Linked DNA regions of Homo sapiens: region 1 is linked to region 2. The links come from fine-mapping of genetic effects on plasma protein levels. A gene starts in region 2. The other region holds a variant in brackets. All regions are shown on one strand. Distances are from middle to middle.

What was found. PIP is the posterior inclusion probability: the model's chance that the variant is causal. Protein levels are from antibody-based Olink assays in UK Biobank. Linkage for the fine-mapping came from a reference panel and not from the study's own genotypes, which makes the PIPs less certain.
Region 1: its variant is fine-mapped to the plasma level of the CD6 protein (UK Biobank, PIP above 0.99). The variant lies in the coding sequence of CD6. If it changes the protein, the assay may bind it differently, which can mimic a change of level.

The regions. Positions count from the first base shown.
Region 1 is chr11:61,004,040-61,009,398 of GRCh38, reverse strand. It overlaps CD6 (CD6 molecule), which reads right to left. Exons shown (of 13, transcript NM_006725.5): 2 at 2,757-2,825; 3 at 1,489-1,839; 4 at 554-865. LOC105369326 (a long non-coding RNA gene) reads left to right here and starts at 1,288. Exons shown (of 2, transcript XR_950155.3): 1 at 1,288-1,352; 2 at 4,454-5,359. RefSeq lists a silencer at 1,486-1,685 and an enhancer at 1,427-2,135. The variant G/A (reference allele first, on the strand shown) is at 662.
Region 2 is chr11:60,967,611-60,972,947 of GRCh38, reverse strand. CD6 (CD6 molecule) reads right to left here and starts at 1,268. Exons shown (of 13, transcript NM_006725.5): 1 at 1,034-1,268. The coding sequence starts at 1,082.

The DNA of each region.
Region 1 (5,359 bases), 36 kb before region 2:
CCTGCTGTGATAAGTGTGGTCTGTGGAGCAGCAGCATCGGCATTGCCTGGGATCTTGTTAGAAACGCAGACTCTGGAGCTCTGCCTCAGACCTACTGAATCAGAATCTACATTTTAACACCCCCACCTCCCCCATCTCCTGCTTATCAAAGAGAGGCACTGGCTGGTCCAGAACCTTCTGGCCCCACCTGGACAGACCAACAGCCTCCTCAGAGGCCTCCCTCCCTTCAGTCTCCCCTTGCTGCTTGAATGCAGGTGGCCAACTCCCACTCGGGAAGAGTCTCACTTTTAATGTCACCTCTTCCGGGAGGTGGTCAGCCTTAGCCTACAGCTCCGCATGGTCTGCTGCCTCTAGACTCCACCTGACTGCCTTTCTTGGGGGCATTTACCACTTTCTCTCCTGAATTATGTTTGTCTCAGTCTCATCTCCCCTCCTGAACTGTGACATCTCAAGGGCAGGGACCACCTCTCCGGCACTAACTCCAGGCTTGGCGCCCAGTAGGCCTATGGTGAGTGTTGGTAGTGACCGGGCTTCAGTGACTCCGCCCACTGACCTGAGCACACCGCGCCCGCGTCCTCTTTGTGGCCGCAGTAGTGCTGTCCTGGCAGCCCCGGGCAGTCCCACAGGTAAGCTTCGGCCCCCGAGCAGTTCACCTGGTCCC[G/A]GTGGATAGGCCCGCGGCCGGGCGTGAAGTGCAAGCCGGGCAGGGCCTGGACTGCCCAGCCGCAGCCCAGTTGCCTGCACACCACGTGGGCGTCCTCCAGGTCCCAAGTGTCATCGCACACTGATCCCCACTCGCCATGCTCCAGCATCTCCACGCGGCCGGCGCAGGCGCCGCCACCGTCCACCAGGCGCAGCGCGCGGTTCTCTAGGGGTGGGAGGGGGTTGTGGATGCTGGGGCACCCGACCAGGAAGGGAGGGTTGGGGTGATGGTTGGACTGGCCGGAGAGTTGTGAGCGTGTTGTGGACCCAGTGAGAGGGCTGTAGCCCGGTAGGCAAGACTGGGAATCCCCCCAGGACTGCAGATGGGTTAGGTAGAGCCGCAGGCTGGTGGGAGGGACCAGAGACCTGGTGGGCGGGGCCTGGAGGGCAGGTTTGGGAGCCTGGGAGCCACAGCGCTTAGGGACCCTGTGAACCTGGCATGTTTATGTATATGGCGAAAGGGGAGGAGAGACCCAGAGCGGGCGGGGACAGGGAAGCGGCGGGCCCAGTAAGTGGGGTTAGAGACCGGGTTAGCTTTGGGAACCCAGGGGTGGGACTAGGAACCAAGTGTGGGGGTGGAGTCTGGAGGCCAGATCCAAGGAAACGCTCAGATCTGGAAATGACTCGAGGTCGTCCTCCGGTGTGGGAACCCGGTGCGTTTGCACTGGTAGGCGGTGGGGGTGGAGGTCTGGAGGGCGAGGCTTGCGTCCAGGGTCTGGAGCCAGGGGCAGTGGCTGAAGGCCTGGGGAGTGGGGCAGGTGGGGGCCCGTGTAGGGGGTGCGCTCGTACCTGCACAGGTGACACGGGCCCGCCTCCCGTCGCTGCGGCACGCGTGCTCCACCACCTCGCAGAGCCGCCACTCGGCGCCGCTGCACAGGAGGGCGGGCGCCCCGGCCAGAGTGGCATTAGCTGCTACGCTGGTGTTCCCGGCTGCAGGCGGGGGCGGCAGCTCAGGGGTCGGCGGGGCGAGCTGAGAGGCGGCCTCCGCCCCGCCGCAGCCCAGTGCTCGGCACACGGCCTCGGCGGCGCGGCTGTCCCAGAGCGCCCCGCACGCGGGCTCCCAGGACGCCTCGAGCCGCACCTCCACCGTCCCGCTGCAGCTGCTGCTCCCGTTTGTCAGACGGACCGGAAGCCGCTCCCCTGGAAGTGTCAGACCAGAGAGCTGAGACCGGTGGGGCCTGGGCAGAGGGTTGCCCAGGCTCTGCCACTGACTCTGTGCGTGAACTTTGACAACGCCCTGCCTGGCTAGGGGTCTCAGCTTTCCAGTCTGCAAAATGGAGCCGGGCTGGCTCATCCCTGAGCCCACCTTGAGGCCTGACCCTGTGGTTCTCCTTAGAGTCAGCCGAAGGTGGGGCTTGGGAGTGACTCTAGAGGTTAAGATGGGTGACAGACAACTAGGGGTCCAGCCCCCTAGAAACCCTCCTCACTTGCTCCTGTCTCCAGGGGCACCCGTTTGTGAAAGAAAGGCAGAGTTGTGAGTTCAGGGGCCCTGGTCCAGTGGGCGCATGCTTCCCCTGAAGGCCCCTCTGCTCCTCTGAGGGTACTGTCCTAGAGGCTGTCACAGTGACTAGGGAACCTTGGAGGATTGTGAAGCGGCTGGCCATGGGGTTGATGATGGGCTGCTTCAGCTGATGGTGGTCCTCACTTCCCCAGAACCCCTTCTATGGGAACCACCTGCCCCTTTTAGCCCAGGATTGTACCCCCAGTGCTAGCATGCATCTTTGCATACAGTAGGTCCTTAATAAACGTCTGCTGAGTAAATCAAGGACCCTGCCTCCCCCACCAAGAACTCTAGCCTGTTCTCAACAAATCCCCTTAAAATGCTCCAGGCATACCTGCCCACCTGTATGTGACTTATCAGTGTCCTCTCAAAAATGGTAGTTCTACGACCTCAAAGTGAATTGATAGTGGAACTTCAGGTGATGGGTCAGGAAGAAGTGTTGTCTGAAGTCAGGGAGCCTCCCTGGTATCCTAAATGTCCATTTCCCTTCTTTATTACCCTGGGGGACCACCTACAGAAAGCTGATCATGGACCCCCAGAGGGAATGTTTGCTCACCTGGCTCCCAGAGCTCACTCTCTGCACTGCTGGTGTTGAGCTGGTCAGGTGGGGCTGGAGATGGATGACCTGAAATGAACCAGCAGCAGCATGGTGGGTGAGTGAGCTCAGGCCTGGAGACCACAGAGACACCCTGATGAGCAGGGGGCACTTCCTGGAGCCTGTGGTGGCTACATGAGGCCTTTGGAAAAGACGTGGTCCTCAACTTTGGGTGCATTGGCCTCCCTTCAAGGTAGGGAAAGTTCTCAAACATTGGCATTTCAGGATCCTCCGCTTTACCTATTCATTGCACACACAGCTTCAGAAATCGGAGTAGAACAGGGAGGAAAGGCAGTGGGCACTGGGGCCAGACACACAAAGTGGCTTCGTGACCATGAATGGGTGACTTAATCTTTCTGTGCCAGTCCCAATTTTTCAGCTATGATTCTTAGGAAAATATTGTGAGACTGAAATGAGACAGCCTATGAAATACTTGACATATAGAAAAAGCTCGAAAGTGGGAGTGATTTAGAAAAAGAAAATTTTGTTTATAGAATTTGTTTGAGAATTTCATATCAGACTTTAGAATAATTGACACATCCTGGACTGGGAACCACTGGATTGCAAAGTGCCTTCAGACACTAAGAAACTAGCATTCATGAAGGACAGGTATTTGCATATTTGCATATATTGTTCCATTTACTTTCTTTCTTTCTTTCTTTTTTTTTTTTTGAGACAGAGTTTCGCTCTTGTTGCCCAGGCTGGAGTGCAATGGCTTGATCTCGGCTCACCGCAACCTCCACCTCCCAGATTCAAGCGATTCTCCTGTCTCAGCCTCCTGAGTAGCTGGGATTACAGGCATGCGCCACCACGCCTGGCTAATTTTGTATTTTTAGTAGAGACGGGGTTTCTCCATGTTGGTCAGGCTGGTCTCGAACTCCTGACCTCAGGTGATCTGCCTGCCTCAGCCTCCCAAAGTGCCGGGATTACAGGCATGAGCCACTACATCCAGCCTATTCCATTTACTTTCAACAATGCAATGAGGCAGGTGTTAGCATTCTTATTTTACAGATTAGGAAAAGGAGGCTCCAAAAGCAAAAATCAGTTGTCCCTGCCAGATAGGGTCCATTTATTCCACCAGAGCTACTATCCATTCTGCCCTGGGAGGCTGATCTGTTTGGATTAACCCCTGTCTTCCTGGGCCTTATGGCTTCTGTCAGATTCAGCCAATGGGGAGCCTTAGCAGAGCTAGGCAGAAGTGAGGAGAGCGAAGATGTGACACTTATTCCTCTGGCCCCCCCTGTGAGGTCCCTCGGGTAGGCTGTGTCCCTCATGTGAAGGACATTGCTTATTCAAGGTGACCTCTCCTTGACTGTCTCCTACTCGGACTCACTGACCACTCCCTGGTTGTGTCTCCTTTGGCCAGAAGTTGCTCTTAGATTCTACTTACTGCATTACCCTTTGTAAATAGTTCTTCTGTAAATAAGTCCCCTTTAAATTCCTATTCTAGGTTTCCTGGTGGGAACCCAACTGATGCGTGGGCCTGAGGCCACCCAGTGAGCAAGCTGCAGAGCCCGGATTTAAACTGTCTCCAAGGACTTGCCTCCCCTCTGGGCTGGGATGTTTGGGCTTGCAAAGCACAAAGGGAGGCTCTGGGGCAGGGACTGTTGTGGTTGCCTATGAACTCCTCTGCATTTCCTGGTTTCTCTTGCACTTAGGTTGGGCTGGTTGAAGCCTAGGCAGAAGACGTCTGCCTGCTTTTGAGCCAAAGCAGGGAAGAGGCAGTGAGCCATTTCCATTTACGTCTTCCCTGTTGAAGGATATTAGAGGCCCTGGGTTGCGGAGGAACTGCAAGAGGGAAGGGGATGTTGACCCAGCTTGGATTTTGTGTGAGTAAGGAGTAAGCCCTTATCATGTTAAACCATGAAGATTTGGGGGTGTCCTTGTTGCTACAGCCTTGCCTAGTCCGGCCTGACCGATACAGAGCCTGAAGACTCGGACATGACCACTACACATTCCTGGAGCTTCACCTGAGCAGATTCCACGGACATACCCCCTGAGCCTGAGCTTGTGCATGTGCGCGTGCACACCCTGGCAGACAGCCCTCTCCAGGAAACCGTGTGGGCCTCTTCATCATCAGGCAGAAAGTCTTCAGCCCTCTAATTGCCGTCCTCGCTAACTCCCTGGCTGGCTGCCCAGCCTGAGCCCCTGGAGGAGAAATGACTCCAAATTCAGAGCATAAACTCTGTGGCTGATGTATTAGAATGTTCAGCGCAAGAATTCAGATGCCCACAAGTTAGGATTTCAGAATCCCGGTTCCCACAGCAACCGTCCCAGTGCTCCTGCGTAGTTTTCAATGTTACTACATGGGGTGGGGGAGGGGGATTGAATGATGGCTGCAGTGTGTATGACTGTGAGGTGTGTGCATATGAGTGTGTGTGAGGGACTGTGTGCATATGTGATTACGACTGTGTGTGTGAATGTGATGTGTGTGGGGCAGGGGGGCTTTAGCTCTGCTCTGTATCATCTCTCTCTCTGGGTCTGGAAAACCACTTTCTCATGCATAAAGACAAAAATGTGTTCTCCTAGATCAGAAAACCCTAGAGGGCAGGGCCCATGGCTGG
Region 2 (5,337 bases):
AAACTCCAGTTCCCAGAGCCGAATGGCTTTCCCTGAACCAGTATGAGGCCACAGGCTCGGAACACATGCCTGGAGATCAAGGCAGAGAGGAGAGCACTCCCTGCCCAGAGTCTCGCGACATGTACCCAGTCCTCCAAACCAGCTCGATGCCCCCTCCTGACTGGGTCTTCCTGGGTCTCCTCCATCACAAAATGAAAGCACTTGGCTCTCTGGCTGCAAGGTGGACCCAGACTCCCCTGGCCCGAATTCTGTTTCCATACCAGTCTTCCCAAATCCCAAAATGTGAGAGCTCGATGGGGTCAGGATCTCTTGCATCTCCAGGCCCCTGCCCCGCTCTGGCCAGCTTGGACCCTGCACTCAACAGGGGCCAGCAAGTATCTGGGGAGCACAGTCTAGTGCCCCAAACCTTCTGGCCATCTGATTCCCTGGCCCAGGTGGCCAGGTGCCTTGACACTTGGGGGCAGCTTGAGACGTGGGGGTGGCCTTCATGCTCGCTTATGCCCTAGACTACCCCAGCTGGTTGTGCTGAGGCCATCAGCGCCTGGTTGTCCAGAACTCTCCCTGGCTTCCCTGAGTCCTGTTTCGGGAGGTGCTCTCCTGTGATTGGCCTACGCCTGCTGGACCCCAAGCCTCAGCTTTGGCGTTGAAAGTACCACCATCAGTGGTCCTGCCTCTCTGGAAGGTGAACGGTTCCTTCTTAAGAGTTGGCAAGAAATAGGAAATGGGGGAGTTCCTGAGCTTAAGGATGGGAGAGGCACCTCCCTCCTCACACCCTAGGGACCCATTGGTAAGGCACAAAGCATGCTTCCCACATTCTGTCACTCCAGGAGGCTTCCAGGCACAGCCCCAGCCCCTCGAGGGGCTCCTGTGTCCTCTCCTAGCCCCAGATGCTGGACCTCCCTGGTACCTGAGTGTAGTCTTGGCTAAAAGATCCTAGAAAAGTGACCACAAGGAAACAACCAGAAAGGGGACTGAGAGGGCCGGACCCGGCTCCTCCAGCACCAGTGGCAGGAGATGAGGGAAGGGGGCCTACCTGAGAGGGCTGCCGTCAGCAATCCAGTGATCCCGAAGAAGAGCCACATGTCTGGAGCTGTCTCTGGCTGCTACGCGTGGCTGCCTGTGGGAAGCACCATCTTGGGGCCGGGAGGTGGACACGGCCGTTGTGCGCCCCTGGCGCAGGTCTGCTCTACCCTTTGCTGTTCTTGTTCCTGTGTCTCTCTCTGCTCTCTCCTCTCCGACACGCATGCGATCAAACCCAACCTGTGAGTGTCTCACGCCTGCTTGTTCTGCTTGTGGTTTTGGTCTGCAGGAAGCTGGGCTGCTGTTACAGGGGCTGGTGGGGAGAGCCCCAGCTGCCTGTGCTGGGAGCCCACCCATCCAGGCTGCACCCCAAGAGTCACGGAGCCAGACACACGCATGCACACGCATCCATGCAGACACACTTCCCCGAGGGTCTTCTAAGAAGAAGGGAAGTGGAAGAGCCATGCCTCATTTCTGGTGGCCCAGAAGAAAAAATTGATAATGTAGTAGCTGCTCAATCAGTACATATTGGAAGAGGGAGTGAATGACCCATTGCCTGTCCCGGTCCGTGTAATTTGGCTCTCTTGGATTAAATCCTGAGTTTTATCTTAACCTTAGGTGCAATGGTGGTTGGGAAGGAGGGTGTGGTCTTGATGCACTTTTGGAGATAAGAGCCTAAGTCTCCCCTCAGAGAAATATAAATTGGGAAGGGCCTGAGAGATGGCCATCCCACAAGTCCTTCTACAGGGAAGGGTGCCAAGGCCTTGTGGGAGCCGCCCCGTCAGATGGCACAGTGGGGCCAGCTATCCCATCTCCAGGTACCAGACTGGGCATGCCTCCGTGGGAGTCAGGCATGGGAGCTGGGTCTACAAGGCTGAGCAGGATTTTGACAAACAGCAATCATGGGAGGCCTCTGGGCCAGAAGGAATAGCAGGAGCAAAGGGCTGAAGGAAGGAAGCCCAGGGCTGCCTGAGAAACCCCGAGTTGCCCCATTGCACTGCAGCAGACTGACGCTATAGGAAGAAGGCAGGGGCCAAGCGTGTTTAATTCCCATGGTACTCCCTGTGGAGCATATGGTAGGAGGTGAATAAATGTTTATTGAATGAGAAAAGGAATAGATAATTTGGTTGTCCAAGCAGGGCCCTGGAAGTGGTCAAATCCAGAAGGGGTTTGGTTCCAAATCCTGGCCCTGCCTCAATTGGTCCCATCCCAGGTCCACCTCTCCTGGCCCTCCACTTCCTGCATCCTTGCTTGTCTTCATTTCCCCAACATGTGGAATGAGGAGCGGTCCTCCTCCATTGGGTTCGGTCCTAAATGTGGGTGTATGCATTTGATGCGGCAAGTATTAGAGCCACGGGGAACCAGGCGCCCCCAGAGTGAGACTCCTCCCAGTCCTGCCCCAGCGCCGGCACCTGCTGCCGCTGCCCTCTGGTGGAAGTCACTGGCAGCACAGGTTTGCATGGGTGCCTCGAGCTCCCAGATGCAATTCCATTCATTTACACAGTCTTGGTGTGCAGAACTCTGGACAGGACTCTGTGGAAGTGAAAGAGAGGAAACCATATTCCTGCCCTCAAGGAGGATGAAGTTCACACACACACAAGTGACCAAACCACAGGCCAAGGTAGGACACACATAATGTGAGGTCTCCTGGTCCTAAGAGGAACCCGTTTGAAATGGGCCGGGAAGGATGGCTAGACTCCATTTCTGACAATATGGTAGACAGCAGATGCTGAAGAATTCTCCTAATACAAAACACCACAAAAATATTGTAAACCATCTTTTAAAATGTGTAGCTGAGGTGGTGAGAAATGAAGAAAATCATCAGAGATCAAAAACGACAATAAGCCTGGGCAACATGGTGAAACCCTCTCTCTGCAAAAGGTGCAAAAAATTAGCCAGGTTTGGTGGCACACACCTGCGGTCTCAGCTACTCAGGAGGCTGAGGTGGGAGGATCGCTTGAGCCCAGGAGGTCAAGGCTTTAATAAGCCAAGATTGCACTGCTGTACTCCAGCCTGGGCAACAGAGTGAGACCTTGTATATGTTAATATATAAAGACAACAAAAATCCAAAGAGATCACAGCCAGCAGAGAAGTATCTGTTGATCCAGTTGACCAAGAGCTTCAGTCTTATGAACATGGACAAAAGTTAAAGCTGAGAAACAAAATCGAAGTGAAAAACAAAATCCAAAATTTCTGCCTTAAACAAAGAGCACTGAAATACAACATCCACAGTGGAGAACTCGGAGAGAAAAATTCCTTAAAGCGAGCTGACACAGAGCTTGCCCAACTCAGTATGGACTCTGAGTGGGAGAAAAATAAATGTCAACCCTGAATGCCCCTCACCACAAGTCTACCCACTAATAGGCCTGGAGGTGAAACTCATGGTGACTTTGTGGCAAAAACAACCACACAAAAAACAAACAAACAAAAAGATAAGATAAGAATTTAAAGTAAGGTAAATAATAGCTCCTTAGGCACGTGGCAGAAACAAATGATAAAAATTGTCTCTGGAGTAACTCATCCTATATTCATGACTCAAAGAAATCCCACAGAAAAACTCCCATGGAACATGAGTTCACATGTTTGTAAAACAGAAAAATCATAAAACACAGGACACAAGGTGCTTTAGGTGAGAGGAGCACCAAGCAATAAACTAAAAATGCAGACCTTCGAACACATCTCAGATGTTGGAATTGCAGTATATATAATATAAAATAAGGATGTTTCATATGCTTCAAGAATTAAAAGTTGGTAATTGAAAGTATAGATAAGGAACAAGAGACTATTTAAAGTGACCAGGAAGATTGAGGGAAAAAAAGCAAGCAGTTATGTAAAAACATAATTTTTGAAAATAGAAGCCCAGTGTACAGATTAAACAGTAGATTAAGGCTCAGCACTTTGGGAAGCTAAGGCAGTCTGATGGCTTGAGGCCAGGAGTTCAAGACTAGCCTGGCTAACACAGTGAAACCCTGTCTCTATTAAAAATACAAAAATTAGCCAGGTGAGGTGGCACATGCCTGTAGTCCCAGCTACTCAGGAGGCTGTAGCACAAGAATTGCTTGAACCCAGGAGGCAGAGATTGCAGTGAGTCGAGATTGTGCCACTGCACTCCGGCCTGGGTGAGAGTGAGACTCTGTCTCAAAAATAAATAAATAAATACATACATAAAAATAAACAGCAGATTAATATGGCTGAAGAGACAACTACTGGGGTGAACAATAGATTTGAAGAATTTACCCAGGATGGAGCACAGGAGGACAAAGTGGTGGAAAATATGAAAGAGGCTAAGAGACATAGACAAGGAACAAGGATTTAAATATGTCTAATTAGAGTTCTAGAAGAAAATGGAAAATTTCTAGACTTGATGAAAGACACAATCCTCAGATTCTGGAAGCTCCCCCAACCCAAGCATGATAAATAAAAAGAAATCTACACCAAACATTTTTGGTAGCAAAACTGCTGATCACTAGACAGAAGATGGATGAATGATGAAGTAGATGGGCAGCTAATATGTCAATACCAATAACTAAAGCCAGAAGGCGATGGAACAACATCTCAAAGTACTAATAAAAAAATAACTGTCAACCTTGACTATCTTTCAAGTATAAGGTTTAAAAGACACATTTTCAGATGAAAATTGAGAGCATTTATAGCTAACAGACTCTCACCTAAGGGAATTCTAAAGGATGTTCTTCAAAAACAAGAAAAATAATCTCAGAAAAAAAAGTCTAAGATTCAAGTAAGAATGGTGAGCAAAGAAATATGTAAACACAGAAGTGGATTTAATAAGCACTGATAGCATAAAATAATTACAAAAATGTCCACTTTGTGGAGTTAGAAAAAAATGAAATAGGCTGGACATGGTGGCTCATGCCTGTAATCCCAGCACTTTGGGAGGCTGAGGTGGTTGGATCACTTGAGGTCATGAGTTTGAGAACAGCTTGGCCAAAACGGCTAAACCCCATCTCTACTAAAAATACAAAAATTAGCCAGGCGTGGTGGCTCGCATCTGTAGTCCCAGCTATGCAGGAGGCTGAGGCAGGAGAATCACTTGAAACTGGGAGGTGGAGGTTGCAGCGAGCCAAGACTGCACCACTGCACTCCAGCCTGGGCGACAGAGCGAGACTCTGTCTCAAAAAAAAAAAGAAAAAAAAATTAAAAAAGAAAAAAAAAATGAGATAAAACTAAAGAACCATAAAACAATAACAAATTGGTGAGGAGTGATCAGAGTGGGAAAGGTCTATTATTTGGTGGGAGGGCAAAATATTGACTAGCATTTGACCTTGTTCAATTAAACATGCATGTTAAACTAGTTGA